Homo sapiens: one gene and its partners. The protein of the gene in region 3 purifies or fractionates together with the protein of the main gene of each other region. This does not show direct contact. Each region holds a gene or a part of one and is shown on either strand. Other genes may lie near its edges.

Region 1 (3,500 bases), on a different chromosome or scaffold from region 3:
ACATCATCTTTGCAACTTTTCTGTTGGAACAATCTATAATTATTCCAAAATAAAGTTAATTTTTAAAAAGTTTCCTCTTAAAAAACTAACATTTATTTTCAAAAAAGGTAATGTCGTGAAAACGAATAATTTTAAAAAGTGAGAACACTAGGTCAGGCACAGTGGCTCAAACCTATAATCCTAGCATTTCAGGAGGCTGAGATGGGAGGATTGCTTGAGGCCAGGAGTTTGAGACCAGCCTGGTCAACACAGTGAGACCCCATCTCTTTAAAATAATAATAATAATAAAGTGGGGACACTACATACCTACCAGAAGGGCTAAAATCCAAAAACCAGATAGAACTAAGTGCTGTTAAGAACGTGGAGCAAGAGGAACTCTCATTCATTGCTAATAGGAATGCAAAATGGTACAGCCACTCTGGAATAGAGTTTGGCAGTTTCTTACAAAACTATAACTAGTCTTACCATATGATCCAGCAACCTGCTTCTAGGTATTTATCCAACTGAATTAAAAATTTATGTCAGCTGGGCACAGTGGGTTGTACTGTTAATCCCAGCACTTTTGGGAGGCCAAGGCAGGAGTTCGAGACTTTTATGACATAAAGAGTGAACTTTAATGTATGCAAATTTTAAAAAGTCATTTAGGAGACTGGGAGATTGCAGAAAAGAATGAAGACTATGACAAGGGAATCTATATTACAGATGTGTGAAACAACTTCACCAAAGGGGGTGGGAAAAAGGTTCTGACCTAAGTAGCTTTGGTAATGAGTGGAGTCTGAAAGATTAAGGGCAAAAGGAACTGCACAGAAGTATGTACTCTAGTTGATAAAGTTTTTTTCATGGAGTATGGGTTAGCAATTCTGATACTGCTATCCATGTATGTATATCCATATATAATGGAACTGGACAATTAAATAAATGGATGGTGGAAATTAGGTTTTTCACTATTGTGAATGGAAATTCAAAGATCAGCAAGGGGAGGAGGCTAGAATGATCTATGTGATAATGGATCAGAATTGGAGACACCAGTAGGAACTCATGTTTTTCCCCCCCGCCCATACTACTGAAAGTGATCTATGGAACTCGTTTAACTTAATATAGACACAGATGGCTACATAGAGAAATATTTATAGATATGTCTATATACATGGGGTTAGCATACATTCATATATTTCTTTGCTCTAACAGTTGAAAGGACCTAAAAGAAATGACACCCCAGTAGCAAAGAGAACACTCAGTACCCAGGTCTTGTTTCTAATAGCATTCTCCAATAAGGGAACCAGGGCACCTTGGGGAAATGGCTGATTCTAGCACTGGGACAAGAAATACACAAGATGAGCCTGGAACATTTCCAGATAGTAAGGAAGTACTCAAAGATCAATACAAATACGCGCACACACACACACATGTATGTTAAAGGAATACAGGAAGCTCCCAAAGGACAAAGCTGGAACAACCTGAACAACAAAATAATGTAATATTGGAGTGTAACCTAAAATATAAAATAAATATACTTGAGTCCACACTATTATCAGTAAATACTTGACTAAACTAATAAATGGGAAAGGAGAGACAAGAATTTCAAATAAATTAAGTAGGTACTCCACCCTAAGATCAAGGAACTCCCCATTCCTTAAGTGTGGGCTGCAAACAGTGACTTCCCTTCAAAGAATACAGTATAGAAAAGGAGGGGAAAAAAAAGTAAATTCACTGTAGAAACCTCACAAACACTATTTCAGGTCAATATGAACAGTCAAGGTCAATATTAAGTCATAAATCATGTTGATAGCATGTACCCTTGATATGATGTGATGAAAATGGCACTTTACCTCTGTGGTCTTCCTGCCCAAAACCTGTAACTCCAGTCTAATGAGAAAAACATCAGACAAATTCCAATAGAAGGACATCTTACAATGTATTTGACTAGTACCTCTCAAAACAGATTAAAATTTTTTTAAAAAATTCAGATGTATAATTTTTCTAGCTTTCTTAAAGACTTTCTGAACTAGTCTAAAATAATTTTAAGACTAATTGAGACTGTTAAGATACTGCTTACACCCAAAAACACAGGAACAAGCCTGGTGCAGTGGCTCACACCAGTAATCCCAGCACTTTGGATGCTGGAGCGAGAGGATTGTTTGAGGCCAGGAGTTCAAGACCAGCTTAGGCAACATACTGAGACTGTGTCTCCACAAAAAGAAAAAAATGACAGCCAGACACGGTGGCTCACGCCTGTAATCCTAGCACTTTAGCACTTTGGGAGGCCGAGGCAGGCAGATCACTTGAGTCCAAGAGTTCAAGACCATCCTGGGCAACATAGTAATACCTTGCCTCTTCAAAAAAAAAAAAAAAAAAAAAAAAAAAAATTAGCCGGGTGTGGTGGCACTCGCCTGTAGTCCCAGCCACTAGAGGCTGAGGTGAGAGGATCCCTTGAGCCCGGGAGGTGAAGGTTGCAGTAAGCAGAGATCAGGCCAACACACTCCAGCCTAGGAGACAGAGTGGGACCCCATCTCAAAAAAAAAAAAAAAAAAAAAAAAAAATTGCTGAGCCACCATTGTCGCAACATTTTTAGAATATAAAAATAAAAAAAAATAAATAAAGACACAGAAACACAGCCAACTGAATAGTCAGATACTGTTTTTATCACTTTTTTGTTCAGAGAAGATGATGCCAGTTTTGGCCAATTTTGTTCAACAAATATTTTTGACCACCTAGTTTGTTGCAGGCATTGTTGAGTCACTGAGGTAACCTCAAAGGAAAAAAAAAATCTATGTTCTGCTTTCATTTTTATGAGAAAATCTAACAATATATAGACAAACAATAAACAATTACATAACAATATATGCTATGAAGTAAATAAGGAAAAGTGAAGTAAAAGTGACCAAGAGGGCTCCTCTAATTCAGAGCTCAGAAAAGTGTCTCTTTAAGGAGATGACATTTAAGTTGAAGCCTGAGAGTGCCAGTAATACAGGCTGGGGGTAGGGGTAGAGTGAAGTGAGAAGTTCCAGAACAGAATGCAAAGACCGAAAAGAATAAGCGTAATGTGTTGGAGTTATACACATCAAGTAGGTAGAGTAACTGCCCTGATAGAAATGAGCTAAGTAATGTATTCTAAACTCCAGAGGCAAGAATAGGAAAATCATTTAAAAACCTTAAAACTCTCCAACATTGACTACCAAGAATCCTAATTAGATTAAGAACTCAATTTTTATGCGTCCCTTTAGCTACCCACCGCCACCACTGTCACAGTTGTCCATCTTCCATATGGTAAATGCCATCTTTCCTCTAAAAACTATCATGCCTGTCATTCATATTTCATCACATCTCCGATAGAAGTACTTTTTTAAAAGGGGCTGGGGGAATTCTACCCAGAAATTGCTCCTGAATTCTCCTACAGATCCCTACTTCACGTAGTACAATCATAGGTTAAGAGCAAAGGCCCTGGAGACAGACTGACTTGGGTTTGAATTCAGATTCTATCACTTAGTTCTATGATTTTG
Region 2 (3,257 bases), on a different chromosome or scaffold from region 3:
AAGATGGCCCGGAGGATGGCAGCAGCTGCCACCGCCCCGGGGTCTGGCTGCTCCAGCCGTGCTGAGCTGATATAACTGGCTCTTCCGGCTCCAGCTTCCATATTCTTGGTGGCCTCGGCTGCAGCTTCGGCACTCTGGGGGATGGGGTGTGGGAGCAGGTTCAAGGGCAGATCACCAGGCCGCCTCCTTCCTGCCATGGGCAGAACGTCTCTGCCGTGCAGCCTGGCCCTGCACGCCCTTGCCCTGGCTCTGCCAGCACCCTCTGCTCTGTCACCAAATGGAAAGTCACTTCTCATCTACTTCCAGCAGGGAAAAGGGTCACCATTCACTGAGGCCCTGTCACATCCCAGGCAGTGTGCGGGGCTCTACATATTTCCTTAGCCACATAACCACCTTCTGAGATAGGTGCTCATCTCCATTGTACAGAGAAGGAAACTGCGGTCCAGGAAGGTTATTAACTTGCTCAGGGTCACATGGAGACAGGAGTCTGCTGGCTAGAAGCCTGTCTCCCCAGGTGGCTGGGCCCAGCCTCACTCACCTTGACTGCTTTGGTCAGGACTTGTAACAGATCAGCTCCTGGGCTCTTCCAGGCTTGGAGCTCCTGCCCCGCTGCCCACAGAGAATCCAGCTGGACAAGGTGAAGGAAAGGGGGCTGAGCACGGGCCCTGCAACCGAGGGTGCTCTTTAGACTTACAGGGCCAAAAGGAGAAAGGTCTGAGGCCACAGCCTGAGTACATACCATAGTCCTGTCCCCTGGAGCAGCCTTGCCATACCTGGCAGGGAAAGAGAGTGAAAGAGGCTCACTATAGGGAACCAAGGGAATCACTCTGAGGGTTGGGCTAGGGCCTGGCAGGGCGCAGATGTCACCAAACACCTCCCCCAGCCCACCCCTGGTCTGATGCACAGGGCTCTGGCTCACTTCTGCATGGCTTCCAGGCCGGCATCCATGGCAGCAGACCAGGCTGGGAGGCTGGTCTTGGCCTTCAGGGGCTGTGCAGCCGCAGTCAGGAACAGGCCATAGAGCTGGGGAAGATGACAACGCTGAGCATGTGGTGCTGGCCTGGACCCCAGCCAGCCCAGCCACCTCCCTGTCAGCCCTTCAGCCCCCAGGCACCCACCGCCCCAGATGAGCCTCCCATCTTCTCCAGGAGCAGGACAGACAACTTGGAGAGCAGCTGGGCAGGGCTGGCAGGGGGTGGGCCCTCCTTCAGCCACTCCTGGATTGCTGCAGGCAGAGAGAGATGGGGAGGAATTCAGAGATCCTCCCTCCATCTGCCAGACTTCCAGCCAGCACCAATGAAGGCTGGAAAAGGCCGACAGGGAAGTGGAATGAAGGCTTCCCAAGATCCCTTTCCACATCCAGTGTGCAGTCTGGAGAGGGGCTGGGCTGCGTAACCGAAAGGGGCCTGGGGAGGTGAGGCCTGCCCCGAAGCCCTCCACTTGACGCTCTGTACTCTGCTCCCTGGCTTGGTTTTTTTCTCCTTAGCCCTTTGTGCTAACATCCTCTGTGTTTTACTGATTTATCTGGTTGACTGTCTTCCACCTAGAACATAAGCCATGAGGGCAGTGATTTCTGTCTGCTCTGTTCACTACTGTATCCACAGCTGAGAGCAGTGCCTGCCCCACGGCAGGCACCAAATACCTTTTTCTCGAATGAATGATGCTGGACAGTTAAGAGCTTTTCACTGGTCTGGGTAAACTGAGAAAAATAAGGACAACAGAATAAGTTCGCCTTGAGTTGTAAGTTATTCACTGTGAAGGATTTCATTTAATTCTAAGATAACAACCTCATACATTTGTGGTGTTAAGAAGGTCCCTGTCGGCCGGGTGTGGTGGCTCATGCCTGTAATCTCAGCACTTTGGGAGGCCAGGGCGAGCGGATGGCTTGAGGTGGGGAGTTAGAGACCAGCCTGGCCAACATGGCGAGACCCCGTCTCCACTAAAAACACAACAATTAGCCAGGCGTGGTGGCGCATGCCTGTTATCTCAGCTAGTCAGGAGGCTGAGGCAGGAAAATCACTTGAACCCGGGGGGCGGAGACTGCAGTGAGCCGAGATCACACCATTGCATACTCCAGCCTAGCGACAGAGTGAGATTCCTTCTTAAAAAAAAAAAAAAAAAAAAAGGAAGGTCCCTGCCTTCAGGGAAACAAGTGGAAGGGGGGCTAAGGTTTTGTGAATGACCTCACTTGGCAAAGTCCCTGGCACCAACCTCTGGCCGCACGGCTGTGGGTGGTGCCACAGTCGCCGTCACCAGCAGCCCGGTCCAGGGCATTCAGGTGTTCCTCCAGGCCCAGGAGAGTGCTGCACACCCGTTCCAGCACCAGCGCCATCCGCTTCGAGGCTGAGCCTAGAAAGGGAGGATGCTGAAGAACAGGCCCACCAGGCCCTTCTCACAACCACACTTGACTATGGTGGGAGGTGTGGGTGCCAGGGCCCCTACCCGCCCCACCGTATACTCCTGCATCCTTTGGGAAGCCTGTCCCTTCCCCAAAGGCAGGGGTTGGTACCTCCTGCAGCAGTGGAATCAGGGGCCTCCTGGGGCTCGGCAGGGGCTACCCGGCTCCGCTTCCGCCCAGTAATGGAGACTGCAGCCACGTTAGGCCAGGCTGCTGCAGTGGTTTCAGCATCTAAGGGCAGCAAGATAACTCTCTTAGACACGGCTGTCCAGCCAGGGATTCAGCAGGGCTTGGACCCTCCCATCCTGACCCTGGTGGCCTGGCTTTCTCAGCAGCCCTGGAGGAAGGGAGTCCACCTCGACAAGCATGGACTGAGTGCCTACTGTATACAGGGGTATGGAGAGAGGGTCCCTGGGAAAGGGTCAGGCCTCTCTGAGGAGGATCCTAATACCAACTCCTTCTAGTCCAGTGAGAGCTGGAGAAGGCTGGAGAAGCCCAGGAAGAGCCTTCTTCACAGGCTCCAGAGCCCTGATTGTCACGGTCAGCCCTGACGGGGTCTCCAAGTCTCCCTGGCTCCTTCCAGTTACAAGGAGCCCTGGCTTGGGTGACCCCAGGTTCCAAGTCTCACCTATCAGTTTCAGGAGAGGCTCATCCACCAGCAGGAGGGTGAGAGAAATGCCAGGCATCTCCAGTGCTGACATGAAGGTGCCCACCAGGGCACGGGCAATCTTCACCCCGCGGCCCTCTGCAATACCAGAGTGTGGCAGTCCAAAAGGGAAAAATGGGCATCAGGGAAAGAAAACAACAGAAAAGCAAGGACCTTGGAAGCTGGGGCTCTGAGGTCGGGAGGGAGATGTCC
Region 3 (3,500 bases):
GTATCTGGAACAGTGGATAAAACACAGTAAGCATTCAATAAATAGATACCGAATGAATGGATGGTTGAATTTACAGCATGAGGAACCTGGCCCAAGGGTGAAGCAGTGGGGGTGTACTTGCTAGGAGCCTCTCGAACTAGATCTCCTGTTCTTGAGGATGAGTTTGAGGTTTCCCTCAGCCCAGACTTATTCGATGTTGGACTAAGCTAGGTATTGAATGGAGCTTATTAATTGCCTATTCTTGAATTGTGTGGCATTGATGTCTAAAACCCAGGATCTTCCTATTCTCAATGATCTAAACTAGCCCTGAATCAATTCTCTAAGCCTATCTGCTAGAACCATGACACTAAAAATAGCACAAAATAATAATAAGGACCAGTATGCTACAAAGGGGTGGTGAGCACATTCTAAATGCTGGATTTTGATTGCTCCCATGACAATGAGGCTGAAATACACTGCTGGTCTTTGTGTCCCCTCCCTCAGCTGCGTAGAGCATCATAGGCTGTTAGAGAGGAAAGGACCTCCAAGATCATCTGGGGCCAGCATTCCACTAGAAACCGCAGACTTTTGCCCCAGAAAAGCCTAGGGAACGGTCATCTGTCTGCTTGGCTTCATGGATGCTGGTGAAAGTGTTGGTTCCTGCAAGGGAAATATGTGCACTGAATTTTATAAATTTCATATCAGCCAGGCACAGTAGCTCATGCCTGTAATCCCAGCTACTCGGGAGGGTGAGGTGGAAGAATCACTTGAGCCCAGAAGTTCAAGACCAGACTGGGCAAAACAGCAAGACCTTGTCTCTTAAAAAAAAATGGATATGCCTTGTAAGGATGAACAGAGTTGGGGAAGGTTGCTAAGACATTTGCTCAGTGGCCCATGGGACAAGTGGCTCTGCCTCTATTTTTCCAAGCCTCATGATATGGAAATCTGCCCTGATGTGGGAGTGTATGGAAATAGGTAGAGCAGGGGAATGAGGCGGCACCTGAGCAACCTCAAGTCTGGAGCCACTTTGCAAGAAAAGGTACATCCTTATGGATTTTGCAAGCTGCTGTGTTAAAGACAGGTATTGGGGCTAGCTCTGCCCATCTGTCTACCTGAACCTGAATAATGTCCTGGGGCATATCCATAGAGAATGGAATCTGTGGAAACCAGAGCCTCATGCCGGTTCTCAAAACTCTTACTTCCATTTTACTGAAAATCCCTAAGAGAGGGTCCTTTCAAATGTGTAGTTTGAGACAGCAGGTTGATTAAACACCTCATGGTCTCTCCATAAACCCAACCTCATCTCCCCATGGTTAAGGCATAGCTACTGCTGCCACATGGATTAGTCGGCAGCTCATTTAGGTGTCTACAAAAATGCCTTTCAGGCTTGGAGTTTCTGATCAGGTGTCACAGTTCTCCCTAATTTCCACCAGGGATGTGTGCCTCATCTGCCATCTGAATGATGCCAGGGAGTACAGGGCCCTAGTGGGTGCTCGATGTCCAGGAGATAGAACCATATGCCTATGAATCACAGAGCTGGGGAGCAGCTGCTTGGCTGGCACCTCCTGACAGATTCACAGGAGCCCTGGCTTCTGGGCAACAAGGTGTCTCAGCACATCAGCGTCTCGAAAGCTATTATTACCTGTGAGCCGCCCTCCCATTTCTTGAGCTGTGCAGCATAAATAACAATTATGATGGTGACCGAGACACCTGTGCTATGAGATACACTAGGTTTCACTTCACTTGGGTGAGTAGAAAATTTCAGGGTAGAAAGATGACCATGAAATACCCATTCAGAAAACTAAAGAAAACAAAAGGATGGGAGGCACATGGAAGTTCAATAAAAGCATCTCTTTGCAGGATGGAGAGAATCCAAGATCCCACTGAGAAAGGAAATGTCAACCAGCTGCCCTGAGTCTCCCCGGGCCACAGCTCCCTCATTCTCCACTGTCCAGAAGTGGGCAGGAAATGGCTTCCAGGGAAGCAGAGAGCAGGGCCACTTCACGCCTTCTAGATGCCAAATGGAAATGGGATTATTGAGACAATGGGACCCAAAATTATGTTGTCAGGTGGGGAGGACATGAACAGCATTGTGATTGTTGCTGTTCATTTCACTCTGACACATTGTGTCTCCCTGGCCATTGTTGAGTCCTATTTTTACCCCGCCCCAAAACCTTTATCCTTTGGTTTGTAATTCTGGTAAAACAAAAAAGCCACTCAAAGAATAGTACTCCACATAGGTAAAAGAAATAGTGTCATTGTTCAGCCTCATCACCTTTTTGAGTCAGCCAGGGATTGACGAGCTGAGATTTAGGGCTGTGAACTGCATACCTATCGGCAGGTGTCATGTCTGATATGGGGCCAGCTTCCCCATTAGTAAAAGTCCATTAGGCGCTCTCCCAAGAATACTGAGGTAGCTAAAGACTCTGCATTTATTAAGCACAGAGTGTCCTCAGAGACAGGTGTGCTACATAAATACAAGGTGGTTTAATTATTTTAACAACCCACTGATACCATCTGATGAGCAGCAGTAGGTCTAGGGCTTCGGTCCCTTTGCTGCAAATGATGTTTGCAGACATCTGTTTAACATACTCCATTCCCTTTTCTCTGTCCCCATTGGCACAGATCCCTATGTGAAAGTGTCCTTGCTCTGTGATGGGCGGAGGCTGAAGAAGAAGAAAACAACCATAAAGAAAAACACTCTCAATCCTGTCTACAATGAGGCCATCATCTTTGACATTCCCCCGGAAAACATGGATCAAGTCAGCCTGCTCATCTCAGTCATGGACTATGATCGGTAGGTAGGCGTCCTAGAGGGACGTAATTCTACCCCTCACTCCCACTCCAGCACCAGCACAGGGCTCCTTGACCTTAGACCTTGTGATTCAGGGCTCAGCTTTAGGGTTCAGGCCTCAAATCTATCTGTACCCAAGAAGGGTGCAGGAGTTTGAGGAAGAGCATAGATTCTCCCTTAGCAAAGGTTCAAAGTTCTTTTCCCAACTGGCCTATCTCCGTCAGGGGCAGCTCTGTCCATCAGTTTCCCTGAATTCACCCCTTGCTATTCCCATTCTTCCATCTGGCACCAAGTCCTATTATCTGGCCTTTGAAATGCCCCTCTATCCTCTCTATTTCTGCTGTTGCTACTACTGTCACCCTGGGATGGCTGTGCAGCCTCCTAGCTGACCCCTGCCTCCATCAATTCCTGCCACAATTCGGTCAACATACTAAGGACACATCTTCCTAAATGACAGCTTTCTTCCTGGACCTGCCCTTCTCAAGAACCATCAATGGCTCCTGTGATCCAGGCTTTTCCCTTGGACTCTGATGGCCTTCCCTAATCTGGACCCAGCATATCCATCCAATCGGATCTCCCCTTCCTCAGATATTTTTCGTCTCTTCCACTCATCCTGCTCTTCCATCTAGGCTGGCTCAAAAACATTTTTCAACTACTCTGGTCCCCATAACTTCTTCTCTCCACTTGTCACTTTAGCTAAAGGAGAAAGAAACCATGCAATAAAGCC
Region 4 (3,500 bases), on a different chromosome or scaffold from region 3:
GGCGCGGTGGCCTATGCCTGTAATCCCAGCATTTTGGGAGGCCGAGACGGGCAGATCACGAGGTCAGGAGTTCAAGACCAGCCTGGCCAATATGGTGAAACCCCGTCTCTACTAAAACAAAAAACAAAAATTAGCCAGGCATGGTGGCACATGCCTGTAATCCCAGCTACTCAGGAGGCTGAGGCAGGAGAATCGCTTGAAACCAGAAGGCAGAGGTTGCAGTGAGCTGAGATCGTGCCACCGCACTCCAGCCTGGGCAACAGAGCGAGAGCCTGTCTCAAAATAAATAAATAAATAAAAATAAAAATTGCAATGGCAACTCAAGGGAGAGTTGAAGCCTTCTTGTTGTTCTACAGATTTGGGTGTGTACACTTGTATGTGCACACAGAGATTGTTTACATTGTTACACATTTTCACTTTTAATCTCTAAAATTGCCATCTCATTTTAAGATGAAAATAGAAGCTCAGTTTTTCATGATCCTGGTTTCTGTCAAATTCTTGATTTAGTAGGGGCCAAGATTACCAACATAGATAACTAAAGTATTCTACATATGATGCATTCCTTTTTAAAAATTTGTTTTAGAGGACAGAGGTTTAATCATTCTTTATGAGGCTGAGTGCAGTGGCTTACGCCTGTAATCCCAGCACTTTGGTAGGCCAAGTCAGGCAGATCAATTGAGGTCATGTTGAAACCCTGTCTCTACTAAAAATATAGAAATTTAGCCAGGTGTGGTGGTACGTGCCTATAATCCCAGCTACTGGGGAGGCTAAGGCATGAAAATCACTTGAACCCAGGAGGTGGAGGTTGCAGTGTGCCAAGATCACGCCATTGTACTCCAGCTTTGGCTAGTTATGTGGTACTGCTATGCTATTAATTTTTTTAAAAATTATTGTGATTAGGAATGGGATCTCACTATGTTGCCCAGGCTAGCTGGGCTCAAGCAATCCTCCTGCCTCAGCCTCCTGAGTAGTGGGACTATAGGTGTGCACCACTACGCTCTATTTTTATCATAGAATAAGCCAAAGGCAGCCTTTTATAACACTGTTTAGAGCTGAGTTAGGGATAATGAAAGCTTTAAATTGGGGGTAATTATGTACAGTACATGGCAAAGGCATAATAATGAGCTCTTACAAGTCAGTGATACCTAGGCAGGACCCCCAGTGGAGATGAAGTTTAGCTATTATCAGTTTACTTTTAAAAGTTTAACATCACTAAATGCAGTCAATACAATTTAAACTTAATCAATACCTCTTTTCATTACAAATCAGAAAGAAAAAAAAACGTTATAAGCAATCATTCCTCAGTATGATCATGGAAATGGGTTCCTTCATTACTCCTATGAGTATAAATTAGCAGGACTCTTTGGCATTTTGCATCTAGATCCTCAAAAATGTTATCCTTGACTCTTTATTTTTACACTCATAATTCATGAGTATAAAAGAATCATATGAAAGCTTATACACAAGCATGTTCCTCCAGCATTATTTTCCATCACAAAAAATAGGGGAATGGTTAACCATAGAATGAACACCCATTGGACAGATCCTAACTGGATATCATATAATATAGTATTACCTTTTGTAAGCCTCAATTTCCTCATCTTATGGAGTGAAAATTAATTGAGATAAAGCCTATAAAGTGTTTTTCACACCTGCCTGGCACGGAGTAAGCACTCACATAATAGCTATTAACTTTGATTCCTGAATGAATGCCATAGAAACCATTTGAGGCTCCCTCATTGTTACCAGTGCTCATTTTAACAATCCTGTTGTCCAAGAGTGCCAGGTTTTCTTCTCTCTATGCTTAGCAACAGTCCCAGTGGGTTCCGGCTAGCTTTCTGCATTTCGTAAAGTGGTCACAATAAATACAAAAGCCATGCTATGTTCCACATAGAAGTCGAAGTAGAAAGACTCCCATGCCATCCCATTCATTACCACATTTTACCACGTAAGTAATAAAAATCCACAGTGTCGGGGTGGGAGTGCCAAGGCTTCATAGGTTCCATTTGAAAACTTTACTCTGCAAAAGGAGATCAGCCCCAGGAACTAGTACCTAAGACAGACACTGGCCTCTTATATTTCATATCCTTTAGGTATTTGTCTGATACTTCTTCACTCTTAACTGCAGCCCTGCCATTTCAGCAGGCATTAAACTAGATTCCTGTTACATGTTTATATGCAGGAAATAGATTTTAAATGATGATAGGTGATTTTTTTTTTAATTCTTTGTGGTTTTTTTAATCAAGTTTTTTTGTTTTTTGTTTTTTGTTTTTTGTTTTTTTTGAGACAGAGTCTTACTCTGTTGCCAGGGTAGAGTGCAGTGGTGCGACCTTGGCTCACTGCAACCTCCACCTCTCAGGTTCAAGCAGTTCTCCTGCCTGAGTCTCCCAAGTAGCTGGGACTACAAGTGCGTGCCACCACACCCAGCTAATTTTTTGTATTTTTAGTAGAAACAGGGTTTCACCATGTTGGCCAGGATGGTCTCAATCTCTTGACCTCGTGATCCGTCCACCTCGGCCTCCCAATGTGCTGGGATTACAGGTGTGAGCCACCATGCCTGGCCACTTTAATCAAGTTTTCTACAATCAATATGTATTTCTCTTAAAATGAGGGATACAGCTCCTGATGTAAAGAGTTTTTCCTAGCCTTGCAATTACTATGGTTGCAAGAATAAGCAGAGTTTTTGGGTTGTGGTGAAGTATCTAAGCTAGAGTTTGACTAGAAATGAAGGCAGGTAAATTTGTAATCAGAAAGTCACAATGATTTGATTTGATTGTGAAAGTCACAATCCCCTGTGTTAAGTTCATGGACTCAAAGTAGCTTTCCCATATTTGTACGTCATTTTAAACATAAATTATGCTCTAAGGACCTTACATTCAAAAAGGGACGAAAGCATTTTTATGAATGATAGTGGTTATAGGAAATGTTTATTTCTTTTTTGTTTGTTTATAGTAAATCTGATATGTCTCGCTTGCGATTAGCTGCTGGTAGTGCCATAATGAAGCTTGCTCAGGAACCTTGTTACCATGAAATTATTACCCCAGAACAGTTTCAGCTCTGTGCACTTGTTATTAATGTAAGTAACAATCTTATTTTTGTCAATTACTTATCTTCAAAGTTGAATACATTACTTTTCTATGGATACAAATCCATTTATAATGTGAATATATGCACAAAAGTCACTACTATTATTACCTGTTTAACTGTCTTCCAATTATTACATTATTTATTCTCCCATATAATTATCTTCTTTTTAATTGAAGACACTAAAAATACTTAAACTGCTGTTTTTTATTTAATAAATGGTTGCCAATTTAAGTTTTTCTGTGCTGCTGTAGGATGAGTGTTACCAAGTAAGGCAGATATTTGCTCAGAAGCTGCATAAGGCACTTGTGAAGTTACTGCTCCCATTGGAGTATATGGCGATCTTTGCCTTGTGTGCCAAAGATCCTGTGAAGGAGAGAAGAGCACACGCACGACAATGTTTACTGAAAAATATC
Region 5 (3,500 bases), on a different chromosome or scaffold from region 3:
ATCAGTTTGCACATTCTAATCACTTTCCAGTATCACAAGAGAGATTTTTACTTATATAATAGTCCTAGAGTTTGCAGCTGGTAAAACCAGAGGCTACATCCAGTATTACTGCTAAGAGACATTCTTCATCCACCAATGTTGTACATGTATGAAAATGGTGTACTGTATACTTTAACATGCCCCATACTTTGTATTGGAGAGTACAATAATGTAAATCCTAAAAGCACCACTATTTTAGCATAATAAAAGAAAGTCCAAAGAGCTCCTATATAGACTACTCCAGATAACTTCGCTTCTTTGATACTTGTAGCTTATTGTAATTTTTTTTAAGAAATTCAAGGTCATTATTATTGTACAAAATAAGCGCTTTGATTAACACAGCTATATAGTTTTTTTAATTTTTAAAAAACCTGTGGAGACGGTGATCTTGTCTTTAAAACATGATAGTCCTTTCAGTATAATGTCTTAGATTAAAGACGTTGCCTTTAATATCTGTTGGGAAGGAAATGTCCAGACTTTTCAAATCTCTTATTATATGTTTCCTTTTTTTGTTTACATAGGGAACAATGTTTATAGTCGTGTGTACAGTGGGGGTCTACAACAAGAAGTGTATATTTTCAAACAATTTTTTAATGATTTAACAATTTTTGTAAATCATTTTCAGGCTTCTGCAGCTGTAGATTCTCACTGTGAATCCCTTGCTTGCTCATGCATAAGTGTATTTGCAATACCAAATATACAGGTTTAGTATTTTTGCCTGTTAGTGATTGTTTCACATGTGTAACGTTTTGGTTGAGATGTTAAATGGTGGACGAGTACTGTGGATGTGAATGTGGGAAGTAATTTTAATCATATGTAATTGGTCACAAGGCCTAATTTGCAGTAACTATTGCTGTTTTATTTAACAATGCCTTGTTGCTTTGTATGCATTAATGTTTGGATGTAAAGATTGTGTGTCTATCCAACAGGGAGCCACAGTATTTAAATTGACCAACCTAATGTTACAACTACTTTGAGGTGGCCAAATGTAAACTAAAAGCCTTAATTAAAGTGGTGCAATTTTGTATAACTTAGCATCAGTAGTTCAATAAATTTGGATTGCCATGCAAGGGCTTGCATTATAATTACTTGCCACTTGAATGTGTTTTGTGTAATGTTTTAACAGTGCTAGTAAATAAATACGGGTTTACCCTGGTTTTAATTGTAATAGGTGCATTTTACACAGCATGGTTTCATAATTTAACATCTGGGCAAGCCAGACTCATTAATTACAGGAATAAGGAAGTAGCGAGTTTTCTGGTATTGTTTGAATATCCACATAACCACCTTTTGAACTTTTCCTTGAGAAATAATTTTGTAAATCAAGCAGTATTACTTACGAATAAATGCCTTTGGGTAATGTTCAGTAGCTATTTGATGAGGTAGGTAAAAGAGGAACGATTTAACATACTTTCATGGATGTTACACTATGGATTTTTTAAAATACAGGATTGAAGTTAGAATATTGTGGTTATAAAAATCTTTGAGTGATGTGGATTAAGCACTTAGAGAATCGATATTTTTCTTAAATATGCTATAATTGAATTCTGTAAGAACTGAATTCTTATAGAATTATTTTAAAACTTTTTAAAAATTGTAAAGCTCTTAAAAAACTTTTTGAAAGTATTTGCCAGCTACTGGAGCAATTAATCAGTGATAATATCTAATAGAGGGGTATCTGCTAATCCCCTAAATACACGCTGTTTGAATGATACATTTTTAAAGGCTTTCATGTTAAGAAAAAGTCTGATTCTTTACAAAAGGGACTTGTTTTGGCAGAACTGGTTTTATTTATAATCATTTGGGAAAAAAATTAAGCCCAAAAAACTGGGACTGTGAAACACTAAAATTACTTCAATTTACTATGTCCTGTTACATCCATTGATACCGCCATTATTCAATAATTACTTTTAATAAATGTTTGCTGCCTACCAGCTATGTACCAGGCCCAGTTCTAGGCTCAAACAGCTAAATATTCATTCATTGGACAAATTAAGTACTTAAGTATAAAAATTGTTCTAGGCCTAAGGATGTAGCAGCAACCAAGATCAACTATAAAATGCTGCCCTCCTAGAATTTATATTCTATTGAAGAGTTTCTCAGCCTCAGCACTATTGATGTTTTATGTTTGATAATGTATTCTGGCGACTCTCCTGTGCATTATAGGAATTTTAATATCTGCCCACTAGATGCCAGTCACACCACCCCAGCCCCCAAGTTGTGGCAACCAAAAATGTTTCCAGACATTGCCAGATGTTCCCCAGTTGGATTGTTGGGGGACAAGGGAGGTGAACTTGGAGGGCAAAATCACCCTGGTGAAGAACTACTGCTCTGGTGGGAAACAACACATTAGTTACAGATGAGTGTTAGGGTTACAAGATGGATGGTTTACTATATAGTGAATAAGAATATAAAGTTTGGAGCCAGACTTCCTGGGTTTTTAATCCCAGCTCTTCCAGTTCCTACTATATGCCTTTGGTTGGGTGCCTTGGTTTCCTCATCTGTAAAATGAGAATGATAATACCTACTTCATAGGAGAGTGAAATGAATGCCAGTGCTATCCTCTAGGTCTATATATATATATATATATATATATTATATATAGTACATATATAGAGAGAGTATATATATATATGTAGTACAGTGGAGGTCTATATAATACTATATATATAATTTATTTTTTTCAATGCTGATAGGAATAAGGCTGTGGTTTGGCAAAAAGCACCATTTTCTCCTATACAAAATAGTAACTGCAGTTTGGGAGCACAACTCATGTAGATTGACTTTTCTGGTGCTTAATGGGAAAATACTAAAATAATTGAGTCAGAAAAGGCATGAATTCCTTTTCACGTCCCCAAGGATACTTGAAGAAACTTGAGTTTTAGGAGAAAATCAGAGTGGTCTTTCACTTACATTTTTCTAAAAAGTGTAAAAACCCTGTATTGACTTTCTTGTTGATTCAGTTGTTTCTTAAACGTAAATAGCTCATCTTTACCATATGTGGGCATTACAAATAGAAATTTTTAAAATTCCATTTATAAAATGAAGTTTTGCCGTTTTTTTTTTTAAATCATTCCGTCTTTAGTTGTGGGACAGCAAACTTAGAATCGAAACTCATCACTACAACTTTTCTTTGAGTTAAACTCTTATCTGTGTTTTCATTGAATTTAATCTCCATCTATTCTATCTCTTCTTAAATCTTGGAAATGTAAAAGGGAGTTATAGTGTTTTACAATTAATACTCTTACTATTACCTTAGAAGCCTTAAAAGTGCTTGCAGGCTTGTCTCATAATCTGTCAGTGAGCCTTAACATTGTGATTTGTAAGACTAAAATTTTTTTTTCAAACAAAACAAATCTGACAGCCTGGGCAACATAGACCCCATCTCTACAAAAAAAAATTTTTTTTTAATTAGCTGGGCATGGTGGTGCACGTCTGTACCTGTAGTCCCAGCTATTCAG
Region 6 (2,891 bases), on a different chromosome or scaffold from region 3:
ATAACAACTCACAATTTTCTCAGGACACTAGATTAGCTGAGTAACTAAATCATCATTCAGTCCCTCATTCAACAAAACAAACGCTCATTGCTCCAAAGAGGCCAGCCAGATTAGACCATTTCAAACATCTTTTAATTGAACTGAACATGAAGAACTGCATTCTGCAAGAAACAGATCAAAATGGGATCGTAAGATCTATTCCATATATCTTCTCAAGGAAAAACGTTAACAATATCACACATTTCAAACGTATATGTTCTTAGCAGGTGAACATAAAAAATCATATAACACTCTGTTATATAACTAAAAAGAAGTTACCCACGCAGCTTAGCTTTAGAATTAAATGAGATTTATTGATTGTATCTTCCCAAGAGTTACCAATGGCTAAGGTACAGGCTATAAAACATTCAGACAAGAACAGGCTCAAGAGTATTTGGGGTTTGAGTATTCTTTGTGTCTTACAAAAATAAGACTATATATATATATATAGAGAGAGAGAGAGAGAGAAAGAGGGAGGGAGGGAGGGAGGGAAGGAGGGAGGGAGGGAAGAAACAAATGCAGATCTGTTTCTGCTGCTTCAGGGCTATTCAAGAGCAATAGTCTTAAAAATTTTTTCCTCCAGGAGTGAGACCATTCCCCAGGAAAAATGTCTCACTGGCTTGTTTAAGAAGTATGATATCAAACCTGGAACTCCACAGGAAACAAAACCTACACAGAGGCCACCAAAGGACAAAAAGAGCCTCTGCATCAATGGAACTCAAGCTTTGTTTTTATAAAACATATTGGTCCAAAGTGCTGATGTCATTTCAGTGGTAGGCTAGTGCTTCACTTTACAAAAGCACGTGTTAAAAACTTTTATTTTGGCCAGGCGCGGTGACTCATGCCTGTAATCCCAGCACTTTGGGAGGCCAAGGTGGGCGGATCACCTGGGGTCAGCAGTTCAAGACCAGCCTGGCCAACATGGTGAAACCCCATCTCTACTAAAAATACAAAAATTAGTGGGGCGTGGTGGCGGGTGCCTGTAATCCCAGCTACTCAGGAGGCTGAGGCAGGAGAATCACATGAACCTGGGAGGCAGAGGCTGCAGTGAGCCGAGATTGCACCATTGCACTCCAGTGGGGAACAAGAGCGAAACTCTCTCAAAAAAAAATGTAAAAAAAAAAAAAAAACTTTTATTTTACAACATAACTAGAAGTAGTACTACTTGCTATTTGTTTTCCACATAAAAAGTCGAAGATCTGACCTCAGAAAATTCTCTCATGGATTGAGGCAAGAGGAAGGCCTGAGGGCAGTCAGCAACCCACTTTTCGGGGCAGTTTTGTTCATGCCCCTGAGCAGACCCTGGCATTCCTGCCCAGCATTCCTGTCTAGCTCCTCTCTATACCCAACCAGCTACCACCCTCCTCGATGCCACCATGCCCACAGTGGGCCTGGGGTGCAGTGGGGTCTGTGTGTAGATATTAAAGCTACAGCTTCTGTTTATTGTTTTGGGCTAATCAAAGAGCTACAGAGCACACAGGTGTTAGTTGGTGGGCCTGCCCTGAATTCTAGACATTAAATACATGCAAAGTAACGTCCATTTAAAACTCAATCAAGAAGTAAAGTCACTTATCCATCCAACAACCATTTACTGAACTCCTAAAATACACAAAGCATCAGGAAGGACTCAAGATACATAAGAAATGGTGTCTTATCTAAAACACAATCTAACAGATAACAGATTTCCAAGCATCTCAAAACCAAAAAGGACCTACATTTTTTCTTTCGGGGGACCAGGGGCAGTGATCCTCAGCCTCTGTGGCAAGGATGGGCAGCACCGGGCCACAGGCCTCACACTGCTGTCACTCCATGCACCCAAGGGCAGATGAGTAAGGCAAGAAAAAACAATTTGTTGTCTGGGAGCTGAAGCAGGATCTAACAAGGACCCTGAGTGACAGGGAAGATCACCCCACAGAAAGGAGATGCAATGGTTAGCTCAGGTGTGAAAGTAAGAACAGGCTGCCACGTGGGGACAGTGAGAATGGCAGGGTAGTCATGCACACAGAAACGGTGATACTGGTCTAGAAATGTCTGAGAGTCAGGCTGGAAACAGGAGTCAAAAACAACTCTCAAGTTTCCATTCAATATGAAATCATTTTTAAACATACCAAAATCTTTTCCGTTCTTTAGAACAGCAGAAGAACTGGCCTTACCTTCACAATATCCAATCCTCCCACCAGCTCCCCTTTCACATACAGCTGAGGGTATGTTGGCCAATTTGAGTAAGCTTTTAATCCTTGCCGAACCTAAAGAAACAACAGGAATCCTGAAACCATCCTATCAGGCCCTTAAGATTAAAGCTAAGACAAGGGTGAAACATCAAACACAGAACTTACTTCTTCATCCTCCAATATATCGAATGTTTCATATTCAACACTGCAAAAAAGAGAAGACATTTTAACTGGAAATACAGTTAAATCAAAGTGTAAAACCTCTATGCATTTGATGTTTTTAAAATAATCAAGAAAACCGTTTCACTGCTAACAAAATGTACTACAGACCAATGGAAATGATTTTACTTCTTAATCTGTCTGGTACTACACAGAATTAGTCATTCCAACATATGACTTTATCTGGATTTTTCTCCGGACAATATTGGGTTAGACCAGGGGTGGGCAAACTTCTTCTTAAAGAGTCAGACACTAAACACTTCAGGCTTTACAGGCCAGACAGTCTCTGCTGCAACTGCTCAGTTCTGCTCTCTGCTGCAACTGTCAGCATAAAAGCAGCCACAGACAATGTATAAATGAAGGGATGTGGCTATGTGCCAATATAACTTTATTTACAAAAATGGGCAGCCAGCTGCAACTTGCCAACCCCTGGATCAGACCCACACCCCCATCTGCACGAGC
Region 7 (3,500 bases), on a different chromosome or scaffold from region 3:
GAGTGCAATGGTGCTATCTCAGCTCACTACAACCTCCGCCTCCCGGGTTCAAGCAATTTTCCTGCCTCAGCCTCCCGAGTAGCTGGGATTACAGGGGCACACCACCACATCTGGCTAATTTTTGTGTTTTTAGTAGAGGTGTGGTTTCACCATTTTGGCCAGGCTGGTCTCAAACTCCTGACATCAGGTGATCCACCTGCCTCGGCCTTTCAAAGTGCTGGGATTATAGGTGTGAGCCACTGTGCCCAGCCGACAGTTTGTTATTTCTTGCAATTCTTTGGGTTAACTGAGCGCAGTGGCACTTCTACATTGCTTGGTATAGCTGGGGTCATTTAGACAGCTGCATTCACCTGGGCCCTCAGCTGAGACTACAGTGTCCAAGATGGCCTCTTACCTATGAGAGTTTCTCCTCACTTGTTTTTTTATCACTTAGTTGTCTAGCTCAACCTTCATTATAGCATGGTAGTCGGCTTCCAAGAATGAGTGTTCCATGGGAAAAGATCCAATGTACAAAGTTCTAGCAAGCCTCTGCTTGCATCACACTTGGTAATATCCTGTTAATCTAAACAAGTCACAAGGGCAAGCCCAGTTTCTGTGGGAGGGGAGCATTGACACAAGTTCCTGAATATGGAAAGCGTGGTCCAGTGTAACAGTCTTTAACACAATTGACACACCACTCCTTGTAGTAATAATTCTATTTAAGATTGATATCTGTGTGTATATTGTATGTGTGTTTTATTAAAAATATTTTCCCCTAAAGTTAATTATTTATAGTAAGCTGTTAGGTGCAAAGAATTGCATAGGAGTCTGTATATTTCTTAACATGGATGAACTTCATTGTCTCAAAAAAAAAAAAAAAAACTACCACAAAAATACCAGCATATTTATTTCTCTTTTGAGATTATAGGAAGGAAAAATGATGGAAACATACATAGGGATAGTGCTGAATTTGCTATTTAAATAGTTTTTCATAATTTTATGGTTTAGTGTCAATTCCTAGTTTATATAACAACTAGTGAAAAAGAATGACTGGGAGTCCAGAGACCTAGCTTTTCTTGTTCAGGTATGGATAGTAATATATACATAATAACTGACATTTTATAATGTAACAATTTACCTGTTTCACAGTTTAAAATCCTTGAAATGAGATTACATGATGTAATTGCTGGAACCTTACATTGTAGTTGGCAGTGATACTTTCTTTCTTAGTGGCACATAAACTAATGGTGTGTCATTTTTGATATTTTAGATTCAGGGAAATACAGTAATTTTCTCAGTGGCATTAGATAAATTGCTTAATTTCTCTGTGCCTCAGGATGTAGAAATACATGACATAACTTCCAAAGGGAATAATGAAGAACTGTAGAAAATACACAAATGTATACTTTCCATTTTTTTAAAAAACAGTGAAGGTTATAGATTATAAAAAACAATGTTTTATATAAGCTTTCAAATGTACATGTTTATATTTTAAATGGCAATATTTAGTATTTACATATAAAAAAGATCATTTATACTGCTTACATTTCAAATTCCATTATATATCTAAAGTGGTAACATCTTTGGATTATTTTTGAAAGACCAGTGGCAGGAAGGATTGATTATAAAAGAGTTTGCTTGAAAGTACCCCTCTCAACCCTTCTCATAAGAAAATTAAACCCTGGCCTGGGCGGCTGCCTCCACGATGCCACTGCTCATCGAGGGGCAGCGAGTGCGGCTGCCACAGTCCGCCGGGGACCTCGTCCGAGCCCACCTGCCTCTGGAGGAAACAGCCAGATGTATCAGAGGTCAGTCTGTTCAACAACTGGGACCCCAGGGCCTTCTGTATGTTCAGCAAAGAGAGCTCGCAGTGACCTCCCCAAAGGATGGCTCCGTCTCCATTTTGGGTTCTGATAATGCCACTACTTGTCACATTGGGGTCCTGTTGCACACAGGTTATGGCGCCACCTGCTTGACACATTGTGATGGAACCGACACCAAAGCTGGGGTCCCCTTGATCATGAACTCCATAAAGTCTTTTTCCGACTGCGCTCAATGTGGAAGCCTGGAAGTATACCTCGTGGGAGGCTTCAGTGATGTGGGAGGCAGTTGTCACAAAAACTCACTCATTAACTTCTTAGTGAATTTGACAGGCAAGAAGATGACATTCACTTAGTGATACTATGATTATGTGTGACAGAATTAAATGACCAGGAAGAAAACGAATAACACTTTCTAATAATATATGGCATTGCTGTCAACTTAAGACTGCAAAGATTTACAGAGCCTCCTTTCTTTTTTTTGTTTGAGACAGAGTCTCCTCTGTTGCCCAGGCTGGGGTGCAGTGGTGTGATCTCGGCTTACTGCAGCCTCTGCTTCCAGGGTTCAAGTGATTCTCCTGCCTCAGCCTCCCAAGTAGCTGGGATTACAGGCGCCCACTGCCACACCTGGCTAATTTTTATATTTTTAGTAGAGACAGCGTTTCACCATGTTGGCCAGGCTGGTCTCAAACTCCTGACCTCAAGTGATCTGCCCACCTCAGCCTCCCAAAATGCTGAGATTACAGGCATAAGCCACCGTGCCTGGCCTACAGAGCCTCCTTTCAAGATCGAGGTCCAGAGGAGCAGCTGCGTGCCGCGTGAGCTTTAGCAGGAGGACCAGTGATTAGCATTTACGATGCAAAGACAGAACAACTTCGTATAGGACTGTACTCCTGGACACCATTTCCACATGTGGATTTCTGCTTGCAGCAAGATGACAAGCAAATACTAGAGAATCTTTCCACTTCGTGTCTGGCCGAGCCACCCCACTTTGTTGAACATATTAGATCTACCTTGATGTTTTTAAAAAAAAATACTGCTCCAACTAACACACTGTTTCCTGGAAATAAAGCCCTACTCTACAAAAAAAATGAAGATGGCTTGTGGGAAAAGATCTCTTCTCCAGGAAGCTAAAAAAATAGGAATTACCAAAGAAAGCAGAACCTTCTTGGCCTGACAGAGACCATTGGTGGGGCCAGCAAGAATCCAAATTTGGAACCTACATCCATTGGGTCTTAGGTCTTCTCCTTCCTTCCTCAGTGTTTTTCAAATGACTTTCAAAATAAAACCTTATTTTGGCAAAGGCAAAAAAAAAAAAAAAAAAAAAGGAAAATTAATTAAACCCTGATCCCCCCAGGCATCCATTGTGATGAATTAACTTCCTTCCTATGCATCTAGAATGGGACTACAGTATTTCTGTATCATTCTTAGGAAATAGAAAAAAATAGTTACTTACACAATTTTTTTGTAGGGCTTAATTTTTAGTGGAACTCCCAATTGAGAAAGGTTGCTTAGAGCATAAGTTGCATATAAACATGTTAAGATACTTATTTATTTTTTACCACAACCTTATGAGTTAAGTACATGACTTTTCCATAAAAGAGAAAAAACTCAGTTGTGGTAAGAATATAGATCTTGCAACCAGTTCAAGGTCATTAAGCTGTGACTTGAATCCTGGCAGTCTGGTTTCAGAGACCATGC

What was found.
Region 1: the proteins of SYT6 (region 3) and CKAP5 purify together in Homo sapiens (affinity purification with mass spectrometry; one large-scale study listed by BioGRID and IntAct). This does not show direct contact.
Region 2: the proteins of SYT6 (region 3) and TKFC purify together in Homo sapiens (affinity purification with mass spectrometry; one large-scale study listed by BioGRID and IntAct). This does not show direct contact.
Region 4: the proteins of SYT6 (region 3) and PDS5A purify together in Homo sapiens (affinity purification with mass spectrometry; one large-scale study listed by BioGRID and IntAct). This does not show direct contact.
Region 5: the proteins of SYT6 (region 3) and RAP1B purify together in Homo sapiens (affinity purification with mass spectrometry; one large-scale study listed by BioGRID and IntAct). This does not show direct contact.
Region 6: the proteins of SYT6 (region 3) and GLRX3 purify together in Homo sapiens (affinity purification with mass spectrometry; one large-scale study listed by BioGRID and IntAct). This does not show direct contact.
Region 7: the proteins of SYT6 (region 3) and RMDN1 purify together in Homo sapiens (affinity purification with mass spectrometry; one large-scale study listed by BioGRID and IntAct). This does not show direct contact.

What each region holds. Positions count from the first base shown.
Region 1 is NC_000011.10:46,836,281-46,839,780, forward strand, and holds part of CKAP5 (cytoskeleton-associated protein 5), read right to left. Parts: intron 1-3,500. UniProt on the Homo sapiens protein: Binds to the plus end of microtubules and regulates microtubule dynamics and microtubule organization. Acts as a processive microtubule polymerase. Promotes cytoplasmic microtubule nucleation and elongation. Plays a major role in organizing spindle poles.
Region 2 is NC_000011.10:61,343,228-61,346,484, reverse strand, and holds part of TKFC (triokinase/FMN cyclase), read right to left. Parts: intron 3,144-3,257; coding exon 3,027-3,143; intron 2,630-3,026; coding exon 2,510-2,629; intron 2,350-2,509; coding exon 2,212-2,349; intron 1,226-2,211; coding exon 1,119-1,225; intron 1,024-1,118; coding exon 920-1,023; intron 774-919; coding exon 740-773; intron 629-739; coding exon 539-628; intron 191-538; coding exon of another isoform or gene 161-190; exon of another isoform or gene 135-160; coding exon 1-134.
Region 3 is NC_000001.11:114,098,370-114,101,869, reverse strand, and holds part of SYT6 (synaptotagmin-6), read left to right. Parts: intron 1-2,604; coding exon 2,605-2,776; intron 2,777-3,500.
Region 4 is NC_000004.12:39,862,912-39,866,411, reverse strand, and holds part of PDS5A (sister chromatid cohesion protein PDS5 homolog A), read left to right. Parts: intron 1-2,952; coding exon 2,953-3,076; intron 3,077-3,338; coding exon 3,339-3,500. UniProt on the Homo sapiens protein: Probable regulator of sister chromatid cohesion in mitosis which may stabilize cohesin complex association with chromatin. May couple sister chromatid cohesion during mitosis to DNA replication.
Region 5 is NC_000012.12:68,659,399-68,662,898, forward strand, and holds part of RAP1B (ras-related protein Rap-1b isoform 1 precursor), read left to right. Parts: 3' UTR 1-3,500. UniProt on the Homo sapiens protein: GTP-binding protein that possesses intrinsic GTPase activity. Contributes to the polarizing activity of KRIT1 and CDH5 in the establishment and maintenance of correct endothelial cell polarity and vascular lumen.
Region 6 is NC_000010.11:130,174,391-130,177,281, reverse strand, and holds part of GLRX3 (glutaredoxin-3), read right to left. Parts: intron 2,416-2,891; coding exon 2,376-2,415; intron 2,286-2,375; coding exon 2,193-2,285; intron 1-2,192. UniProt on the Homo sapiens protein: Together with BOLA2, acts as a cytosolic iron-sulfur (Fe-S) cluster assembly factor that facilitates [2Fe-2S] cluster insertion into a subset of cytosolic proteins.
Region 7 is NC_000008.11:86,481,187-86,484,686, reverse strand, and holds part of RMDN1 (regulator of microtubule dynamics protein 1), read left to right. Parts: intron 1-3,500.